4 separate regions of the Homo sapiens genome follow, and all the other regions are linked to region 4. Evidence: fine-mapped expression QTL. A gene starts in region 4. Each other region holds a variant in brackets. All regions are shown on one strand. Distances are from middle to middle.

The links. PIP is the estimated chance that this variant, and not a neighbour inherited with it, causes the effect.
Region 1: its variant is fine-mapped to the expression of AQP3 in whole blood (TOPMed, PIP 0.95).
Region 2: its variant is fine-mapped to the expression of AQP3 in lung (GTEx, PIP 0.90).
Region 3: its variant is fine-mapped to the expression of AQP3 in whole blood (TOPMed, PIP above 0.99).

What each region holds. Positions count from the first base shown.
Region 1 is chr9:33,409,671-33,412,354 of GRCh38, reverse strand. LOC105376020 (a long non-coding RNA gene) reads right to left here. Exons shown (of 3, transcript NR_188543.1): 3 at 1,805-2,115. Among named protein-coding and RNA genes, the nearest start is that of AQP7, 8.4 kb to the right of the region's middle. The variant G/A (reference allele first, on the strand shown) is at 1,682.
Region 2 is chr9:33,424,012-33,426,695 of GRCh38, reverse strand. No RefSeq gene overlaps it. Among named protein-coding and RNA genes, the nearest start is that of AQP3, 22 kb to the left of the region's middle. The variant C/T (reference allele first, on the strand shown) is at 1,309.
Region 3 is chr9:33,415,916-33,418,599 of GRCh38, reverse strand. No RefSeq gene overlaps it. Among named protein-coding and RNA genes, the nearest start is that of AQP7, 15 kb to the right of the region's middle. The variant C/T (reference allele first, on the strand shown) is at 1,320.
Region 4 is chr9:33,446,084-33,448,767 of GRCh38, reverse strand. AQP3 (aquaporin 3 (Gill blood group)) reads left to right here and starts at 1,175. Exons shown (of 6, transcript NM_004925.5): 1 at 1,175-1,345. The coding sequence starts at 1,238. RefSeq lists a silencer at 1,000-1,189.

The DNA of each region.
Region 1 (2,684 bases), 36 kb after region 4:
GATGGTCTCGATCTCCTGACCTCATGATCCGCCTGCCCCGGCCTCCCAAAGTGCTGGGATTACAGGTGTGAGCCACTGCGCCTGGCAATTTTCGTGTTTTCTGTAGAGATTGGAATTCTCCATGTTGCCCAGGCTGGCATTGAACTCCTGGGCTCTAATGATCCACTTGCCTTGGCCTCCCACAGTGCTGGAATTAGGGGTGTGGGCCACTGTGCCCAGCCACTTACTCAAAGAAATACAGGGGATGACGGAAAAGCTGAATGACACTACAAAGAAAAAACACAGACAAATCTAGAATGTGGGACTCTTACAGGACTACATTTATTCAGCAAGTCAATGACATGAAAAAATAATGATGGAGAAAGGGGAATTCCTCTTGTTTAAGAGAACATTTAACCCAACGTAATGTGTGACCTTGTTTGGATCCTGATGCAAACAATCCAACAAATCAATGCAAAAAGACACTTTGAAACAATTCCAAGTATTTGATCATTCTATGGAATTGTATATTTTGTCAGGTATGGCACTGATTATTTAAGAAAATGTTCCTATATTTTAGAGGGAACACTGAAGAATGTAGGAATGAAATGACAGAGTAGCTGGAATTTAACATATTTCAGAAAAATAAAAATAAAATAAAATAGGCAGTTTGAGACCAGCCTGGCCAACATGGTGAAACCCCATCTCTACTAAAAATACAAAAATTAGCCGGGCCTGGTGGTGGGTGCCTGTAATTCCAGCTACTTGGGAGGCTGAGGCACAAGAATCTCTTGAACCTGGGAGGTGGAGGATGCAGTGAGCTGAGATCGCTCCATTGCACTCCAGCCTGGGCAACAGAGCGAGACTCCGTCTCAAAAAGGGGAAAAAAATGGCTGTAAAATGGAGAATGAGTGAGGGTGATGCAGGAGAGGTGAGCCCCAAAGTGGGGCTTGGCCTGCGAGGGTTCTCGGCTTTGCCTCTCAAGGGCAATGCAGAGAGAAGTAGAAGAAAACAGCTTTATTGAAGCGGCAGTGTTACAGCTCCATGACTGCCCCTGCACAGCAGGGCTATACAGAGGCGGAGAGCAGCAGCCCAGGGCAGTTTTGCAGTTATATTTATACCCACTTTTAATTGTATGCAGATTAAGAGGCAATTTATGCAGAAATTCCTAGGGAAGGGGTGGTAACTTTTGGGCCATTGGGTCATTGCCATGGAAAGGGGTGATAACTCCCAGGTGTTGAGATGGCAATGATAAATTAACATGGCACATTGGGGCGCATGTCTGATTAGAAAGCTGCTTCCAGCCCTGTTTTAGCTAGTCCTCAATCTGGTCCAGTGTCCAAGCCCCACCTCTGGAGTCAAGTCCCGCCTCCTACTTCAAGGGGGATGCAGACCGGGAGACCCGTGGAGAGGCTCTTGGAGATTAGATTTGGGGCTGATTGAGGGGGCCACGAGAGAGGGAGTAGTTGAGTGACTCCTGGAGGGAAAGCTTCAGAGATGTGGTGGGGAGGAGCATTCCTTGGGCTAGGCCCTTGGGAAGGGGGCAGACTGTGGGGAGGTGAGGTTGGGTTGGGGCAGGTGAAGGTAATGTGCTTGTTACACATACGAGATAACAAGAGAGGAGGCTGGACCACTTGTTCTTGAGCTCCGGGCTGGAGATGGAGGCTGGGGAGGTGGCAGCATTTGCGTGGGGGAAGAGGAT[G/A]TGAGAGCCATGCAGGGCTGCCTTCTCCATGACGCACAGGAGGCACAGGACCCATGAGAATGTTCAATCTAAGGGCCCACAAAATGTTTTAGTTTGCATCCAAATAAGAAAAAGAAGAACTTGTAGGCTGAAGAAAATGTTTTAATATTGATACATCAGGGCCGGCGTGGTGGCTCACACCTATAATTCCACTTATTTGGGAGGCCGAGGCGGGTGGATTGCTTGAGCTCAGGAGTTTGAGACTAGCCTGGGCAACATGGAGAAACTCCGCCTTTACAAAAAATACAAAAATTAGCCAGGAGTGGTGGCAGGCACCTGTAATCCCAGCTACTTGGGAGGCCAAGGCAGGAGAATCGCTTAAGCCCAGGAGGCAGAGGTTGCAGTGAGCTGAGATCGCACCATTGTACTCCAGTCTGGGTGACGGGAGTGAAACCCTGTCTCGGAAAAAAAAAAAAAATTAATATATTTGTCTTTATACCAATAGTTGTAAAATAGAATTAATTATTACTATTATTATTATTTGCTGGAAGAAGGGGCCCAAAAGGGCAAAAATGCCAAGGGCACATATATCTAAAAGAATGGAAAGCATTGGGAGCTAAATGATAAGAACTTACGAACACAAAGAAGGAAAGTGCAGACACGGGGGTCTTCTTGAGGGCGGGAGGAGGGAGAGGAGCAGAAAAGACAACTATTGGGTACTGGGCTTAGTACCTGGGTGATGTAATAATCTGTACAACAAACCACCATGACATGTGTTTACTATATGTCAAACCTTCACGTGTGCCCCCAAACCTGAAATTAAAAAAAAAATAATTGAAAGCAGGATCTCAAAAAGATAATTGCACACCCATGTTCATATCGGCACTATTCCCAATAGCCGAAAGAGGGGAGCAACTCAAGTCCAGGGATAACTGAATGGATAGACAAAATGTGGTACATTCATACAATGGAATATTGTTCAGCCTTAAGAAGAAGGAAATTAGCTGGACATGGTGGTGGGCAC
Region 2 (2,684 bases), 22 kb after region 4:
CCACCCTCCTGCTGCCCCTTTGTTAGTCAACCACTACTGCCCTACCTCTGCCTCCTCCCGATCATCATCCACATCCTCTGATCTCAAGCCCCTCACTGAGGTCCCCTTGGTGTCTTTCTCTTTGACATGCTCAACATGTGCCCACATTTGAGACTTTGCCCCTGCCTTTCCAGCCTCTGGCCTCCTCTGGGCTTCCTGACCTGGATTTGCTACACTTAGCTTTGCCGTCTGCCCTGGCAAGCGATGCTTCATTTTGACCTCTAGGTGGGCTAGGCCTTGGGCCTAGGCACTTATTCCCAGGGTATTAAATAAATACCAGGTAGAAGCCTTTTCCAGGAAGCCCTGAATCTTCTCTGCATGCACTCATGACAACTGGCAGTTGCCTCTGCCCAGCCTGGCCCTAAAATCTCCATTTATTAACATGACAATTATTTTCCTTTTTAGAATTCCCCAATATATCCCCTTTTTTTTGAGACAGAGCCTCACTCTGTCCCCCAGGCTGCAGTGCAATGGCGAGATCTTGGCTCACTGCAACCTCTGCCTCCCGGGTTCAAGTGATTCTCCTGCCTCAGCCTCCCAAGTAGCTGGGATTACAGGTGTGCACCACCATGCCCAGCTAATTTTTTTGTATTTTTAGTAGAGACGGGGTTTCACCATGTTGGCCAGGCTGGTGTCGAACTCCTGACCTCAGGTGATCTGCCCACCTCGGCCTCCCAAAGTGCTGGGATTACAGGTGTGAGCCACCGTACCCCAACTGTGTTTTTGTTTTTTTTTTTTGAGACGGAGCGTCGCTCTGTCACCTAGGCTGGAGTGCAATGGCCCAATCTCAGCTCACTGCAACCTCCACCTCTCAGGTTCAAGTGATTCTCCTGCCTCAGCCTCCCGAGTAGCTGGGATTACAGGCATGCACCACCATGCCCGGCTAATTTTGTATTTTTAGTAGAGACGGGGTATCACCATGTTGGCCAGGCTCGTCTCAAACTCCTGACCTCAGGTGATCTGCCCTCCTTGGCTTCCAAAAGTGCTGGGATTCCAGGCGTGAACCACCATGCCCGACCCCAGTGTAACCTTATAATTCATCAGTGTCCCCTTATCCTGATGTGATAGCCCCCCAGTACCTTGACACTTAACACTTATAACTAACCACCATTCGTGTAATCATGTGTTTAAGGCTGTCTTGCCCACCAGGCAGGACGCTGTGGGAGGGCAGTAACTATGTTTTGGTCACTGCCAAGTCCCCATAGTGCCTGACTTCCAGTAGGAAATCCATAAATGTCTGTTGAGTTAATAAATACCATTTACCAAGTC[C/T]TTAATATGTGCTGGGCACTATGCTAAGCACTTGATTAACTTGTTTGTTTCCTGTTTTATGTTTGCGGTCCCTTTCTATTTTATGTACTTTTGAGCATTTCAAAGCTTTTTGGCACGGACACTTCTGACAAAGTTCAAACAGAGAAGTGCATTTTCAGTTACTCATCAGAGTGAGGCCACTTAGAGAAAGGCAGTTAGTTACTCACGGAACAGGGAAAACACTTTCTTGTAATTAGGGAAAAGGGAATCTGGGCATGACATGTCAACTCTGTATTTCATCTTCTGTTCTCCAAGGGAGTTTCAAGAAACTGAGGGAAGGCCGGGCGCCGTGGCTCACACCTGTAATCCCAGCACTTCAGGAGGCCGAGGCGGGCGGATCATGAGGTCAGGAGATAGAGACCATCCTGGCTAACACAGTGAAACCCTGTCTCTACTAAAAATACAAAAAATTAGCCGGGCGTGGTGGTGGACGCCTGTAGTCCCAGCTACTCAGGAGGCTGAGGCAGGAGAATGGCGTGAACCCAGGAGGTGGAGGTTGCAGTGAGCCAAGATCGGGCCACTGCACTCCAGCCTGGGCGACACAGCGATACTCCGTCTCAAAAAAAAAAAAAAAAGAATCAAAAAAATAAAGAATAAAAAAAAAACATAAACTGAGGGCTAAGAGGATGGGGCTCGGGGTTCCTGAAGAAGACCCCTTCTTCTCACCTCTGGAAAGCAAAAACTAGATTCTTTTTTTTTTTTGTTTGTTTTTTTTTTGTTGTTGTGTTCTAGGAAAACTTTATTCATAAACACAGGCAGCCAATAGTTTGCCAACTCCTATTTTAGAACATGAGTGAGAATCATCAATAAAACTACAAATCTTTGCAACAGTCAGAATAAGAAAATAGTGAATTAAAGACTATTAGCATTTCAGCCATCTAGGACAGTGTTCTTCTCATTATCATACGTAAATATTTGTTTTTTTGTTTTTTTTTTTTTAATTGATCATTCTTGGGTGTTTCTCGCAGAAGGGGATTTGGCAGGGTCATAGGACAATAGTGGAGGGAAGGTCAGCAGACAAACAAGCGAACAAAGGTCTCTGGTTCTCCTAGGCAGAGGACCCCGCTGCCTTCCGCAGTGTTTGTGTCCCTGGGTACTTAAGATTAGGGAGTGGTGATGACTCTCAACGAGCATGCTGCCTTCAAGCATCTGTTCAACAAAGCACATCTTGCACCGCCCTTAATCCATTCAACCCTGAGTGGACACAGCACATGTTTCAGAGAGCACAGGGTTGGGGATAAGGTCACAGATCAACAGGATCCCAAGGCAGAAGAATTTTTCTTAGTACAGAACAAAATGAAAAGTCTCCCATGTCTACTTCTATCCACACAGACCCG
Region 3 (2,684 bases), 30 kb after region 4:
GTCTTGTCCCAGCCACTAATCCACCCTGAAGCCTTGGTCTGGCCCTCAGGGCTTTACTCCACCTACCTATAAAGCTTGAGGAGTTTGGTGAACTGGGTCCTGAGGTCCTTCAGGGACCTTCCCGAGTTGCGGAAGGGGTGTCAGCCATGGGGATGGGTGGAAGGTGCCCCCTCAAGCCCCCTCTTCCTGCTGTACTCTCTGACCTGAGTGAGACATTCTACCACAGGGCACTGGCTGGGTTGGGCGTGTCGGCCCGCAGGATGGAAGGCAAGTCTGGACAGGTGGATAGTGGAGCCTCGGCCCCAGGGTGGGGTGTGTGCCCTGGAGAACCAGGAGACAGGCAGGAGCAGATCCTAGGCAAAGATCAGAGGTGGGTGAGGTGGCTCCAGCAGGCCAGCTGCCCTTACCTGGCGACTGTCTCCAGGAATTGCAGAGACAGATACTGGGCTAGGCTAGGTCCTGGCTCTGCGGTAGGGATGGGGAGTGGCTAGAGGGTGGAGAACAGTCCCTTGGTGAGGTCACTTGTATGGTGGGACCCCAGGTAGAGATGGGGTTTTACCAGGTTGGCCAGGCTGGTCTCAAATTCCTGACCTCAAGTGATCTGCCTGCCTCAGCCTCCCAAATTGCTGGGATTACAGGTGTGAGCCACCATGCCCAGCCGAGTGACGCATGTACAAAGTTGACCATGTATTTACAGATACGTCTGGCACAGAGTAGGAGTTGAGGACATTCTTTAGACCCAGCAAGACTTGTCTTGGTAACTAATTGGGTGTGCTGGCAAAGCACAGGAGGAGCCAGGAGGGCTTTTAACCAGCTTCCTTCATCTGGGGGACGATCAACTCACCTGGGCTACTCGGGTTTCCTGGTTTTCTGTCTATGTTTGCAGACTGCCCCTCTGTCCTCAGGGAGTTCCCAGACTTGGGGACAGACTTCTGAGCAGGAATACAGAGGTGAGAGAGGGCAGGAGGGGACAGAGCCCGTCTGGGCCTAGAATGGGGCTCTGTGCTCAATAAGAGGCGCAAAAGGTATGAATTATCAACAAGAAGGGGTTCCATGGGGGGCATAGTTAGGAGTCTCAGGGTTTGGACAGAGGAGAGGAGAGGGATGGGTCCTGCTGCCACCCTGGTTTTTCCCTGAGGCATCTGTACAGAAGCAGAGGTCTGGTAGTAGCCCATGAGGTGCAGCGACAGCTCAGCTGCAGATATATATTGTAAAGGAATAGAGGTGCCTTTCTGGCATGAGTCTTGGCTGAGGGTGTGGGTAGGATTTAATAAGGGTGGAGGTAAGGGGTTTGGGGGCGCTGGAGGCTGGTGGTTGGG[C/T]GGGCCCCACGCAGGGTGTTGGTCCCTTGAAGCCACAGCTGTCAGCTTGTGGCTTCCCATCCTGCTAGCTCAGCAGGTCCCACAGGTTGGCAGGTGACTCACCCCTCACCCTCAAATGGTCCTTGCTCTGAAAGGGGTAGGAGGGATGCAGAATATAGCACCTGTGTGTTCACCTATATGGGCGCAATGCTGTGTTACACACCTGGGTCCAAGATGTGTACCCGTGTCTGACTGAGCATACATAGGGAGTCCCCAGGCACACAGCCCCCTAGACTGTGTGCCACAGGTGCGAAGGGGGCATGTGGCATGGGCGGAGGTAGTGTGGATGAACACACAGCACTTCCCAGAGCACACGCACATGTGACAGGTGTCTTCCTGAAAAGAAGGATTGCAGCTTCAGAGCCTGTCGAGCCATAAGAAGCGGAGGTCTGAGAGGTGGGAAGGGCTCTCTAATGACAGCTCATCTTCCCCAAGAAGGACTTGGCTGGATCAGCTGGCAGAGCTGGGCACCCTAAGCCTGTGGTGACGGCAGCAGCTTCCCTAACCTTATCCCTAAGCTCCCGGCTGCAGGCCAGGGTGGTTCCACTGTCCTAACCCTGAGACGGCATTTACACCCCACAGGCCACACAGGCAGGCTGGGAGCAGTGAGTGGCAGGTGGGCACTCAGTCATTGCTTTCTCTTACCCCCTCTGCAGGCAGGAGGGACGTGAGGGTCCTGGCTGCGTCTGGTCTGAGGGGCTGTGGGGTGAGCACGTCAGCCCCAGGTTGCGCATGCCCCTGGTTTGTGTGGCACTGTATGCACACTCCACAACTTGGTGTGTTGGCCCCTGCCCCGGCACCTGGGGCCTGGTGCTGCCTTCCCATCACACTCCATGATCTGAGAGATGCTTGAAGAGGGCCAAAGAGTCTGGACTAGGAGCCAGGAAGCTCTCACTTGGTGACTTTGGAGATGTCCCTTTACCATGTCTGGGGCTCAATTTGTAGAGGGGCAATAATCCCTGTGGGGTCACCTTGCCAGGCTGCTGGGTAACAGATTCTCATGGAGGCGCACGGAAAGTCAGGAAAGCTCGGTCCTGGAGGCTTCCTATGGGGGATGGTGGTGTCCCCTGTGTTGCTCGGTTGAAGGACTAGGGGCTGAAATCAGATCGCAGCCTCCAGGGAACTTGCACTGCCCCACAGAGGGGTTCAGACCTCCTGGAGATGTGAGGCATTAGAGTTCTGGGGCTGAGCTTCCAAATAAACTTCAAAACAGTGATGTGACAGGCCAAGACCTGCTCTCAGTGAGGCTGGAAAAATCCTTCCACCCATCCCTGCCCATGGGCCCCGACCCTGCTGCTGGAGTGAGCTGCCATGAACTCCAGCCTG
Region 4 (2,684 bases):
TGGATAACTTGTGGTCAGGAGTTCGAAATCAGCCTGGTCAACATGGTGAATCCCCATCTCCACTAAAAAAACAAAAATTAGCTGGGCATGGTGGTGTGCACCTGTAATCCCAGCTAATCGGGAGGCTGAAGCAGGAGAATCACTTGAACCTGGGAGGTGGAGGTTGCAGGGAGCCGAGATCACGCCATTGCACTCCACCTAGGCGACAGAGAGAGACTCCGTCTAAAAAAAAAAAAGAGACAGACTCTTCCTTGGCTGGGGGTAAGTCAGATGGGAGAGGAGAGGGTTAAAAACAGCTGGGACTCAGCCTGCTGGCAAACATGTGGCATGTGGCATGTCGGGGCAACTGCAGCTCAGCCTCTGGAGCCATGTGAGCAATGCACGCAGGTACACGTGTGACAAGCTAGGTCACCTAGCCATGTTCAACAGGCATGTGCACAGCCACGAGGAATGCCCAGCCGTACAATTAGGCACACAGGACATCCGCCATGTGTAGACACAGCTGTGGACATAGCTGGCCAGGACATGCGACACACGACGTGCTCATAGCACAGGGAGAAGGGCCCATGAAGTCTGGTTGGAACTCAGCACGTGTGTCTGTGTGCCCACCTGAGTCTGGACTGCTGCCCCTCTGACACTAGCTGTCCCCTTGAAGGGTCGGTGCCTTATCTGTCCTGACAGAAGAGACAGTGTTGCTTCTCACTTGGGGCTCGCAGCCTCCTCCTCCTGCCTCGAACTGAGGATCTGTTGGGTCCAGTCATCCTGGAGAGATGCGGCCAGTTTCTTTCTGACAGGTCTCCTCCTGCCCGCAAGGAAGTGGGGTGATCACAGGGCGCAGGTGGTCTCTATGACAGCTGCATCCTCTCCAGCCATGGCCCTGAACCCTGCCTATAATCCCACCATTGGCTCTCAGATCTGCCTAAGCCTCTCAGCCCCCTTGACGTCCCCTCCCTTAAGCGCCCTCCGAAGGCCACCCGTCCCTCAAAGCTCCTCACACTCCATGCCCGCAGCTCCCTCCACCCGGCGTCCGCACCAGCCTCCCAGCCGAGGTGGGGCGGGGGCGAGGGGGCGCGCACTCCTCGGCGCTCCGGGACTGCAGGGCGGGGCTGCAGGGCGGGCGGGGCCCGTGTCTCCAGCGCTCCTATAAAGGGAGCCACCAGCGCTGGAGGCCGCTGCTCGCTGCGCCACCGCCTCCCGCCACCCCTGCCCGCCCGACAGCGCCGCCGCCTGCCCCGCCATGGGTCGACAGAAGGAGCTGGTGTCCCGCTGCGGGGAGATGCTCCACATCCGCTACCGGCTGCTCCGACAGGCGCTGGCCGAGTGCCTGGGGACCCTCATCCTGGTGGTGAGTGGAGGGAGCCGGGGAAGCCCTTCTCTCTCCAGCCCTTGCACTCCCCAAACTCTCACTTCCCCGAAGGGGCTGTGTTTTCCAAGGTAGCCTGGACCCACCTCCCCAGCTGTGACCCCCACGCTTAACCGCGGAGGATCAAGCTGACTTCCAAAGTCCTCTTCCCCACGGTTCTAACCCCCTCTCTGACAGCTCCGACTCTTGCCAGAATGACAGCTGTTACTCCCCAGTGATAGTGCCGATCGTTTACCCTCCCACAAGTGACTCAGCCAACAGGCTGGGGGCAGCGGTCACGCTTGCAGTCTGGGACAGCCAGCCACTTCCCCTGCCTCCCACACCCCTCCAGATTCCCAGAATCCCAGCCCCCAGATGTAGGGGAGGGGGCGGAGGCAAATGAGCCATTATTAGGTTATTTGGGTCCTGGGTGTCTGGCCTCTAATGAATAATTAAGCCTCAAAAAGTCCAAAGGTTGAAGTGAGTGAGGACAGTTTGCACGAGTGGGGGCAGAGGGTGCAGGCCACATGGGCTGCGAACAGCGAAGTGGGAAGGGAGGCAGATTCTGACGGTAGAAGGGTGGGAGGAAGCTAGGCCCAGGCACAGAGGACGCGTGTCTAAAGTTGCTCACCTGGTGCTCAGCGACTCCCAGGCCCTGTCTGTTATCCAGACAGATGCTGTCAGCGTCTGTGCAGAAGACGACAAGCATTCTGGTTACTCCCTGGCCTCTTGGTTACTCTGTGGGTTCTCTGAGTGAGCATTTCCCTGCCTGAGTTACTCCTCAGTCCTAGTTACTCCTTGGTCACACCAGTTTCACCCTGGTTTTGTTCTGAGTGACTCTGTTTGCACTTCTTAGGTCTGGCAGACCCACCAGTTATGTTCTATTTCCTGTCCCAGTTACTCTGATTTTTCAGCCGCTCATGTGGTTACACCTGTTTTCCTCTGTGTTCAGTTGCTACATTGCAGTGAGTGGGTTACTCCGTTCCTGCCCCAGCCCTGGGTAGTACAGACCAGCTGGCCCACTGTGGACTAGGAAGCCTAACTAAGGGCAAGTAGGGATCCCCAAATGGTTGAGGATCAGGATCTATGGGCAGAGGAGGGCTGAAACCCACTTCTGGCTTCCAAGAATAGGAAGTGGGGAAGCCACAGGGGGCATTTTATCCACAGCCTCCCATAAGATTAGTCGTCCTATCAGCCAGCCCTAGCCCCTCTCTCCTGTGCCAAGAAGGCAATAGGAGGTGGCCTTTATCACTCTCCTGCCTCGGAGCCCTCACTCCTATCGGAGTCCTGAGTCCAGCCACCTGTTTTAGAGCAGCCAGGCTAGGGGAGGATGATGTCTTCT